Regions from separate parts of the Homo sapiens genome. Here region 1 is linked to region 2. The links come from fine-mapping of genetic effects on gene expression. A gene starts in region 2. The other region holds a variant in brackets. All regions are shown on one strand. Distances are between the middles of the regions.

Evidence for each region. PIP is the estimated chance that this variant, and not a neighbour inherited with it, causes the effect.
Region 1: its variant is the best candidate, but not a certain one, in a credible set for the expression of SLC71A1 in whole blood (TOPMed, PIP 0.66).

The regions. Positions count from the first base shown.
Region 1 is chr1:99,897,215-99,902,585 of GRCh38, forward strand. It overlaps AGL (amylo-alpha-1,6-glucosidase and 4-alpha-glucanotransferase), which reads left to right. Exons shown (of 34, transcript NM_000642.3): 26 at 3,422-3,647. Among named protein-coding and RNA genes, the nearest start is that of AGL, 50 kb to the left of the region's middle. The variant A/G (reference allele first, on the strand shown) is at 3,371.
Region 2 is chr1:100,035,782-100,041,165 of GRCh38, forward strand. It overlaps SLC71A1 (solute carrier family 71 member 1), which reads left to right and starts at 2,314. Exons shown (of 12, transcript NM_033055.3): 1 at 2,314-2,535. The coding sequence starts at 2,452. LOC124904230 (a long non-coding RNA gene) reads right to left here and starts at 2,227. Exons shown (of 7, transcript XR_007066251.1): 1 at 1,949-2,227. RefSeq lists enhancers at 1,786-2,388, 2,351-2,630 and silencers at 2,111-2,290, 2,751-2,940.

The sequences.
Region 1 (5,371 bases), 140 kb before region 2:
ATCAGTAGTGTCACCCTCACCTGAGAGCTTGTTAGAAATGCAGATTCTTGGACCCTATGCCAAACCTCCCAAATCCAAACCTGGACATAGAGAGAGTAGGGTTGGTGGGCAGAAATCTGTGTTTTCACAAGGTCTCTGGATGATTATCAACAGTCTAAGGCTGAAGTTTGAAAGCACTGCTCTAAAAGATAAAACTTTCAGCAAAAGGGCATTTATACGATACCTTGTTTTGATGCCATCAGGAAAATAACTGAAGTTTGCATCTTTACATGCCAAAATTTTATTTTTGATACTTTTAAAACTGAAGTTTTTAGGTGGGCATCTGAAATGAATTGCATTTTTGTTAATCCGATATATAGTAAGACCTTTTTGTATTACCATTATGGAGCTATAGAAATTTAGGAAGCTGTTTGCTTCTTCCCTAAATGCTCCTGAATTACTGATTTAGAAGAAGGAAATGGAACATCAGCATTCAGCATAGTATAGTGGTTAAGAACTTCGGCTTTACACCAGACTGCCAGCTTCTAATCCTGGTTCCAAACTACCAACTGACAAATTACCTTACTGGGTACTTGGGAGGATCAAATGAACACATACAGTTAAGGTGCCTAGAGTAATATCTGCCACATGCCTAGAGTAATATCTGCCACATGCTAAACAGTTCATAAATGTTAGTTTTTATCATTATTAATGTTTAGGCTCCCAATTATCACCTCTATGCAATATCACAAATTTGTGCTGCTTAATTTTACATAGAACTGTCTAGATTATTGGTTAGCAAACTGTGGCCTATCACCTGTTTTGTATGGCCTATGAGCAAAGAATAGCTTTTACCTTTTTTTTTTTTTTTGAGACGGAGTCTTGCTCTGTCACTCAGGCTGGAGTGCAGTGGCGCAATCTCCGCTCACTGCAAGCTCCGCCTCCCGGGTTCATGCCATTCTTCTGCCTCAGCCTCCTGAGTAGCTGGGACTACAGGCGCCCGCCACCACACCCGGCTAATTTTTTGTATTTTTAGTAGAGACCGGGTTTCACCATGTTAGCCAGGATGGTCTCGATATCCTGACCTTATGATCCGCCTGCCTCATCCTCCCAAAGTGCTGGGATTACAGGCGTGAGCCACTGCGCCCTACCAGAATAGCTTTTACCTTTTTCTTTTTAAAGGGTCATTTAAAAGAAGAAAGCATGTGCAACAGAATTCATATATGTCCCACAAAGCCTAAAATACTTAGTATATGGCCCTTTATAGAAAAGGTTTGCCTACCCCGATCTAGAGGTGATTCCCAGAGAATAATATATTATCCCAGAGGGTATTTGTTAGGGTAGTGCTAGCTGCCATAAATTATAAACACTTAAAATCTTAATGGCTTTTCACAAATAAAATTTATTTCTTGCTTGTAGTCGTAGACGCATGCTCAGTAAGCAGCCTTCTATATACTGATTCAGGGAAGCAGGTTTCTTCCAGCTTGAGGATCTGTCAGTTTCCATGGCTTCTGGGGCCTCTCCAGGAGGCAAGCAGAGAGGGAAAGAGAGCTGGGGGAACACACCTATTCTCCATACACTTAACATGCATCAGTTCTGGCCACAACCAACTGTAAGATTGGTTGTGAATTGTAGGAAATTCGTTTTAGTGGACATATACCTCTACCACAGATGGTTCTACTTCCTCCCTCTATAGAGGTAATCATGAATCAGAAGTCGTTTTATTAAAATGTACAAGATTGTTCCAGATGGTTAAGATTGCTAGCACTATGGCCAGGCATGGTGGCTCACAACTGTAATCAGCACTTTGGGAGCCTGAGGCGGGCAGATTGCTTGAGTCCACAAGTTCAAGACCAGCCTGGGCAACAGGGTCTCTTAAAAAAACAAATATATATGTATATATAGAGAGAGCTAGTATTCTGACCTTTTCTTAATTGAAAGTGTCACTGTCTATACTAATATTTTTATACTTTGTAAATAAAAAGTTTCCCATTGCATTACTGTTGAAAAGATGGGCATTAAGCTTAGACATAGAATTAATAAAAATTTCTGAGTGGTTTAGCCAAAAAGCAGTAAGACCTAGACATTTTAAATAACATTTCCAAGGCCACACAGATGGCAAAGCTAGGATTTAGACTTCAGCCTTCTTATTTCTTAATTTCATGCTGTTTCTAGAGTGCCTTTCTGTCTTACAAACAAAATTTTCATTTGGTATATAATAGTAAAATAATGCTTTAAAAAATTAACTGTCTTCAACCAGTTTTTAAACTGGTTGAATTATGTTTTTCAAGGTCAGCTTCTACCAGTTTGTTTTCTTTCTCTCTCTCTCTCTCTCTTTCTCTCTCTCTTTCTCTCTCTCTCTCTTTCCCTCCCTCCCTCCCTCCCTCTCTCCTTCCTTCCTTCCTTTCTTTCTTTCCTTCTTTCTTTCTTTTCTTTCTTTTTTTTGAGACTGAGTCTCGCTCTGCCATCCAGGCTGGAGTGCCGTGGCGCAATCTCCGCTCACTGCAAGCTCCGCCTCCCTGGTTCACGCCGTTCTCCTGCCTCAGCCTCCTGAGTAGCTGGGATTACAGGTGCCTGCCACTACGCCCGGCTAATTTTTTGTGTTTTTAGTAGAGACGGGGTTTCACCGTGTTAGTCAGGATGGTCTCGATCTCCTGACCTCGTGATCTACCCGCCTCAGCCTCCCAAAGTGCTAGGATTACAGGCCTGAGCCACCACGCCCGGCCTTCTTTCTTTTCTTTCTTCTTTTTTTTTTTGATAGAGTCTTGCTCTGTTGCCCAGACTGGAGTACACTGGCACAATCTCAGCTCACTGCAACCTCTGCCTCCTGGGTTCAGGCAATTCTCTTGCCTAAGCCTTCTGAGTAGCTGGGACTACAGGCACGCACCACCATTCCTGGCTTATTTTTGTATTTTTAGTAGAGACAGCGTTTCACCATGTTGACCAGGCTGGTCTCAAACTCCTGACCTCAGGTGTTCCGCCCGCCTCGGCCTCCCAAAATGCTGAGATTACAGGTGTGAGCCACTATGCCCAGCCAGTTTGTTTTCCTATATGTTTGTTTTACTCTTGGTTTCTGCTATTTAAAATAATTAAGTTCTTGTTTAATAGTTACTTCGATTTTGAAATACCATAGACTTCAAAAGTAGAATCTGGAGCTATGAGGGACCTTAAAAATCACCCAGTCCAATCTCAAATGAAAAAACTGTATCAGAGAGGGAGTCACACAGATTGTTAGCATAAAATTCTAGTCTAGAATCAAGGTTCCTGACTTTAATTCAGTACTTACTCTATCATACTATGACTACTTTCTACATGAAAATATAAAGAAATAGGGCAAGAGAGAAAACGCATTCAAAATATAGTCACCAAAAGTGACTGGTTTTTGTCTTCA[A/G]TTTTTAAGTGTTTGTTTTCATTTCTGATCCACTTAATTCTGTTGTTTTAGGAATATTATTTTAGCATTTGCGGGTACCCTGAGGCATGGTCTCATTCCTAATCTACTGGGTGAAGGAATTTATGCCAGATACAATTGTCGGGATGCTGTGTGGTGGTGGCTGCAGTGTATCCAGGATTACTGTAAAATGGTTCCAAATGGTCTAGACATTCTCAAGTGCCCAGTTTCCAGAATGTATCCTACAGATGATTCTGCTCCTTTGCCTGCTGGCACACTGGTAAAGATATTTCTTAAAATGTTTTTTTGTTTTTTTTTTTTTTTCTGAAAAATGACTTTTAGTTTCTAATGTAAAAATAAGGGTAATTAAGAATCCAAATCTTACGAATTATTCAAATGTCAGTATTGATTTGGCACCTGCTGGTACTATAAGTGATTGGTCTTTGCCTGAAGAACTTTGCAACATGGTAGAAGAGATGATGATGTGTACATAAATATGGCCATTGCAATAGATTGTAGAGGAAGTGTTGTGTAGTCTCTTAAAAGAGAGAGAAGGTCCAGTAGGTAGGTCTCAGGGAGAACGTTAGAAAGTAGCTAAAGTTTCACCTAAATGAGCCATAAAAGGTGAGTAGGACTTTCGGAGAGATGGAGAAAGTTGTTGGGAGACATTAGAGTTGAAAAGAAGCCAGGTGTATGGCACACACCTGTAATCTCAGCTTCTCAGGAGGCTGAGGCAGAAGGATCACTTGAGGCCAGGAGTATGAGTCCAGCCTAGGCAACATAGCAAAACTCAGTCTCTTTAAAAAAAAAAAAAAAAAAAAAAAGAGGAAAGGAATAATAGGGTTGCATAGTGGATTGAAGCACAGTTTAGGGGACATAGTACTTAATAGTGTTTTTGTAAGAGCCTAGGCTCTTATAAAATACGTTTTGTGAAAAAGTCAATATGGTTTGGCTTTTTGTGTAGGATACCTGCAGGGTAGTAAGAGATTATGGAAAGGGTGAGCCAGGTTATGGAGAGCCTTGACTACCAATCCAGGGAGCTTAAAGATTATCTTATGAACAGTGAAGAATGGATAGACATTTTTGAGTGTTTTTTTTTCCCTAATCAAGAATGGACAATAATACTATACTTTTGCCACTTCTGATCTGCCTTTATGTTAATAGTTTGTTATATATGATTGGGGGGGCTGGGAGGGGATAGTAGCTTTGTAAGCTACTCCAGGGTTAGCATATATTTGTGTTCTCATGATATTTATTTATATCATGAAGTACTCAACATTTGTCCAAAATTTTTTTATTTGTCCTCTGTTATCAACTGACATTTCTGTTACAATGAATATAGGTTCATGCTATCAGGCAGGTAATTATTTTACACATAACTTTGTTTTCTCACAGTTTATCCAAAAATATTCACAGCATTATAATTTTTATAATTAATAGTAGAATTTTTATATTATAGAGTTTTGGTTATATTCAGAGTCTTTAAAATGAAACATAATAAACATGTAAGGACTCTAAACATTTTGCTTCTATTTAACATTCTTTACCTTATTTTTAAAAATATAATTGTATATTTTCCCAAATGTCATCCTGAGTATCACATTTATTATTTATATGGGTAAAGAAAATGACTTATGAATTCTTTACATTCACTGGGGTATTTTCCAAAGTCATTATGGATCCTCAAATTTGAGAGTTTCCCTTTAGCTCATAATTTACCCCCATTACCTGTGTATGCAGATGAGTAAAAATAGCAATGCCAATTTAAAATTCAGATGCTGGATAACAAGCTAGGTTCGTTTATTAGCTGAAGAGATCACTCTGATAGAAACTGTAGAAGCTCACTAGATTTGTTTTTGTGTATCAGCAGATTATTTTATGTCACAGACATGAATAGTCAAAACTACTGATGTTAAATATTTGTATGCTCGTCTGTATTATTTGGTATATAGGAGCTGCTTCTTCCCTGGCCTCACCCCAATTCCTATTTCTCACTTCAAAGGA
Region 2 (5,384 bases):
AAACAAGCTCCTGGGAATTGAATTATGAAATCTATCATATTACTTTCTCTAAAGAACTTCAAGTTGGGTGTCAACTAAAAAGTTGCAGGCGAGGCGCGGTGGCTCAAACCTGTAATCCCAGCACTTTGGTAGAACTGAGTATCTCTTGAGGCCAGGTTTGAAACCAGCCTGGTCAACATAACCAGACTCTGTCTTTACAAAAGAAAAATTAAAATTAGCCAGGCATGGTGGTGTGCATTTGTAGTCCCAGATACTTGAGACGCTGAGGCAGAAGGATCGTTTCGGAAGAGGCTGCAGGAGGCCATGATGGCACCACTGCACTCCAGCCTGGGTGACAGAGTGAGACCCTGCCTCAGAAAATAATAATAGGCCACGCATGGTGGCTCACACCTGTAATCCCAGCACTTTGGGAGGCTGGGGCGGGAACATCACCTCAGGTAAGGAGTTCAAGCCTGGCCAACACGGTGAAATTCCATCTCTACTAAAAATACAAAAAAAATTAGCCAGGCATGGTAGTGGGGACCTGTAATCCCAGCTACTCGGGAGGCTGAGGCAGGAGAATCACTTGAACCTGGGAGCTGGAAGTTGCAGTGAGCCAAGTTGGCACTATTGCACTGCAGCCTGGGCAACAAGAGCAAAACTCTGTCTCAAAAAATAAATAATAAAAAAAGTTTCAAAATGAGAATATATGTTTCAAAACAAGTATAATGAATATACTTATTGATTGGAAAATATAATTAGAAGTATCTATCAGGCTATAAATTGCTTTTCTTCTCCCTTCCATGGAAATTAGTTTTTTTTTCCATTTTTAGTCAGTATGAAAATACAAGGAAAAGGAAATTCAATCAAATTTACTTTTTAACATTTTATTTGGAAATAATTTCAAACTTACAGAAAAGTTGCAAAAACAGTACAAAGAACTCATACATTCATTTACTGTTTTTCCTTTTACCCTATATATTAGTTATTTATAGCTGTGTAACAAATAACCCCAAAGCTTAGTGGCTTACACCAAGTACTTTTCATCTTACACTGTTTCTGAGTCAGGATTCCAGGAGTGGCTAAGCTAGGTGGTCCTACCTCTGGGTCTCTCATGAAGTTGTAGTCAGCCAAAGGCTTGACCAAGGTTGGAGGATCTACTTCCAAAGTGACTCACTCCGTGGCATTTGGTAGGAGGCTACAAACAGTTCCTGGACAACTGGATCTCTCCATAGGCTGCTTGAGTGTCCTGAAAACACGGAAGCAGGCTTCCCCAGGCTCCAAGCCCCAAAATGAATGAAAAAGAGACCCGCAAAGGAAGATGCAGTGCCTTTTATGACCTAGCCTCTGAAGTCAATACTGTCACTTCTGTTTTGATCTATCAAGAGTCACTAAGCCTAGTCTACACTCAAGGGGAGGGGAATTAGAGTCCACCTCTTCCAGGGAGGAATATCATTGAATCTGTGAACATATCTTAGAACTACCATACCTAGTTTCAGTACTTTTAAACATTCGCCATTTTGCTTTGTCCCTCTCTTTTCCCCACCTACATATACATACACATACATGTTACTCCCTAACCATCTGAGAGTAGGGAGCATGCGGTGTATCCCTATCCCTCGTGTTTTTCTCTTAAGGAAAAGGATATTCTATTATACAACACGGTAGTTATCAATATCTAATTTTAACATTGTGATACTTTAAAGTCCACTTCCACTTGTGTAAATTGCCCTTTCTAGCAATGTTCCCATCAAATTTATTTTTAAACAATACAGTAAAAACGTAGAGGGCCACAAAGGGTGACATCGGTCAGGTAAGGTATTTTTTTTGGCAGGGAATAAAAAAGGTCCTGGGTCTAGGGAGGTAAACAAGCGTGAGCCAGCTGAGTTCTAGCGGGGGTCCCTGAACACCAAAAGGACAAGACTGTTTCTGAAACACTACATTATCTCTTAAGTTACCCATTACTTACGGAAAATGATTTTTTACTGTTCCCTTCGGTTCCTGTCTTGGTTAGAACACAGCTGGAGATTGTGTTAATAGCTTAGGACGTCTGTTTCCGTGAGCAGGTAACAACTTTTTGAAACAAATTCCCTCATCTGCTGAAGAAGGGGGACAAAAACGGCCCCTATCGCCCAGAACCGTTGCGAGGATTTAGCTAGCTGGTGACGCCGGAGCACGAAGTTGTACAGGTAGCCAGCAGCACCCACGCGAGCCCGCGGTTACCCTGGCCGCGCGGCTACTGTAGAGTGGGCTGGCGGCGAGCGGGCGGGGCGGTATCACGCGGGAGGGGCGGGGCCCGCTCGTCGGCTGATCGCACGATTGTGACGCGCCGCCGGAGGCAGGCCGGGCCCTCAAGATGGCGGCGGGCGCCCAGAGCGGCTCGGCCCGGCAGTAGTGGTGGGACGGCACTAGCTGCTGGGGCCTGCCGCCCCGGGAGTGGCTGCAGCAGCGCCAGGAATCGAGGATGGTAAAATGACCCAGGGGAAGAAGAAGAAACGGGCCGCGAACCGCAGTATCATGCTGGCCAAGAAGATCATCATTAAGGACGGAGGCACGGTGAGCTGAGTTCCGCGCCGGCGAGCGTCCCTCGGGGCCCCCATCCGGTCTCTCCTTCAGACCCCCACACTGCCGTCTCTAGGCGTCCCGGTGCCTCCCTCCCTTCCCCCACCCTGTCCGAGCTGCCGGTGCCTCGGGGTCGCGGACCCGCATGCCGCCGCTCCGGGAATCGTCCTCCGCTGCTCGGGCTTGCGGCCTCCGGGGCCCGTCCTCTTTCTTTCCCGCACCTGCCGCCCTCTGCTCTGGCCGCCTCTGCAGGCCCTGCGGCCTCGAACCCCACGTGCGCCTCCGCCGCGGGGAGGAATGTGCGGGGCTCCCCCGGCGGCCCGCCCGCCGCGCCCCTCGTCGCCGCAGCCTCGCCTCGCCTTCGCCGCCAGGCCCCGCGGAGCCGTCGCCGCGCTTGTCAAGGGGCTGGGAACCATCCCTGCTCTCCCATATGTTGCTAACGGGGTGGCGTCTGGCGCGGGGATCCCGCTGCGGCCCCGTAGTACGTTCGCTTTCTGTTTCCACGTCTCTCTGCGTCGGTGCTCCGGCTCTGGGCTGCTTACAGTAAACCCTGACCGGAGATGGGCTTCCCTCACTTCCCGGAGTCGGAAGCATGACGGCAGACACCTGGGGCCTACATTCGAACCTGCTAGTTTTCAAAGAAAAGTCATCACTGTGTGTCTTAAGATCAAAAGTATTAGAATCAGTCATGGCCTAAGGATCGGAGGAGGACACTTTGAAGGGAAGAAAGGTTTGCTTTTTAGAAACAGTTGTCATCACAGTAAACTTTATGCAGTGTGTAGTTAACCAGCTGGGGACGTAGGATTTTTAATTGAAAAACAAAACAAAACAAAACTGTTTTATGCTAACATTTCTCCGTTGCTACACTGTGTGGTCTTTGTTGCATCCGCTGATACCGCGTTCTGAAATAGAATGGAAAGGTGATATATATGTTTCACTTACCTGAAGTGTGCAGAAATTGTACCATTAATTCCATTTCTGTTTATATCTTATTGGAGCCGCGATCAACTGCTAGCACAGTAGTAAATGTGTAAGTAGGCCACCATTGAGGATTTGCTGAATTCAGTTGAAAAACGTGACAAAATTTTATGACATTTCAGAACACGGCCCAGTCAATATGCCAAAGTTTAGAAAACTTGAGACATATGTAATGACTTTGGAATATATTTTTAGTTTAACGTTTATTATATGTTATAGCTTTGACATTTATTGAAAAAAAGAAACAAATTCCTCAAGTTCTTTTTATTGAACTTGATTAATTAAAACATTACTTTGATTAGATCGGTTATGAAGAGTCATAGCTCTTTTGACCAAGTAGGTAAGAACTATGTGGGGAGAAAAATACTGTTGCCTTTGTCTACCTTTAGAAAGAGACAATATTTTACATTCTTCATAAAATCTACAAAATAGTGGCAATGAAAGATTGTATTTTGTAAGACCAAGTGATATTTAAGATCAGTATTTTTTACAAAATGTAAGAATGAAACTGATTAAGAAACACAGCTTCCTTTTCCTTGGAAAGTTCAGTTTTATTACCTTTCTTTGGGGTTTTGTTTGATTTGCTTTACAGCAGATGCTTTCTTTCCAAATCCTGTGAGTTTTGGAAAAGATCGTTTTTAAACTTTCTTGTCCTATTATTAAGGTTGTAATTAATTCTTAGCCTGCTTTGGGACACAAAATAAAATGTTTGCACCAGCAATAGGTTTCACATAGAACAAATGAAGACTTTTCTTGAGGGCTGTGAACATGGGGGCTATTATCATTTCTCATCTTTATACACTTAATATTTCATTCTCTATTCTAAGAGCACTGGGCACTCCTTTAGAAAAGGGGCTTTGTTTTGTATGTTTGGATCCCACAGGGCCTAGTATGTGAATTTTAAAGTGATAAAAACACTTCTATTTTGTACTAGCACATTCCTAGATGAATTTTTATTGTAATTTTGTTTATTCTTATACGTAATCAGAGGATATATTTCAATAAATATCAGGGGAATATTTTGCATTATTTGTATTTTAATCCATCCCAGCTTTAAATTTAAAAAGTATAACTATTGCAGTCATAGAAATGATTGTAAAATGGTAGTTGCTTATCTACCTCTCTACTTACAATAGTTCAGACTACTATTATGAACTTTTTTTGTTTGTTTGTTTGAGATGGAGTCTCACTCTGTTGCCCAGGCTGGAGGAGTGCAGTGGCAGGATCTCGGCTCACTGTAACCACCGCCTCCTGGGTTCAAGTGATTCTCCTGCCTCAGCCTCCCGAGTAGCTGGGACTACAGGCACGTGCCACCATGCCTGGCTAATTTTTTATATTTTCAGTAGAGACAAAGTTTCACCATATTGGTCAGGCTGGTCTTGAACTCCTGACCTCATGATTCACCCACCTTGGCCTCCCAAAGTGCAGGGATTACAGGTGTGAGCCACCGTGCCCAGACTGAACATTTTTTAAGAAAGGGGAAAAAATTGCCATTTGATACTCTGTTGTTGTGTGTTTTTTAATTCATCGTATCATAGAATATTTCAGTGCTATTGCTGTTGACCTCAGAGTTTCAGAGTTTTTATAAAGTTCCGCCAATGGGTAGATTCATTCAGTGAGATGTCTGAGGCTCTATGGTCGGTACATGACAGTCGTGAACAGTATTTCACATACCTGGTCAATGGTACTGATTTGATCCCCCTTCTGATTTCTTCTTTTCAACAATGTTAATAAAATTCTTTCCCGTTGTCCTGCTAATGACATATATGTAAGCCTATTTGGCCAGTTTAAATATTTATAAACAAAACTAGTAAGAGTTGTTAATGATTTTTCTGAAAATTAGAGCAGATTAGAGCAGATTTGTA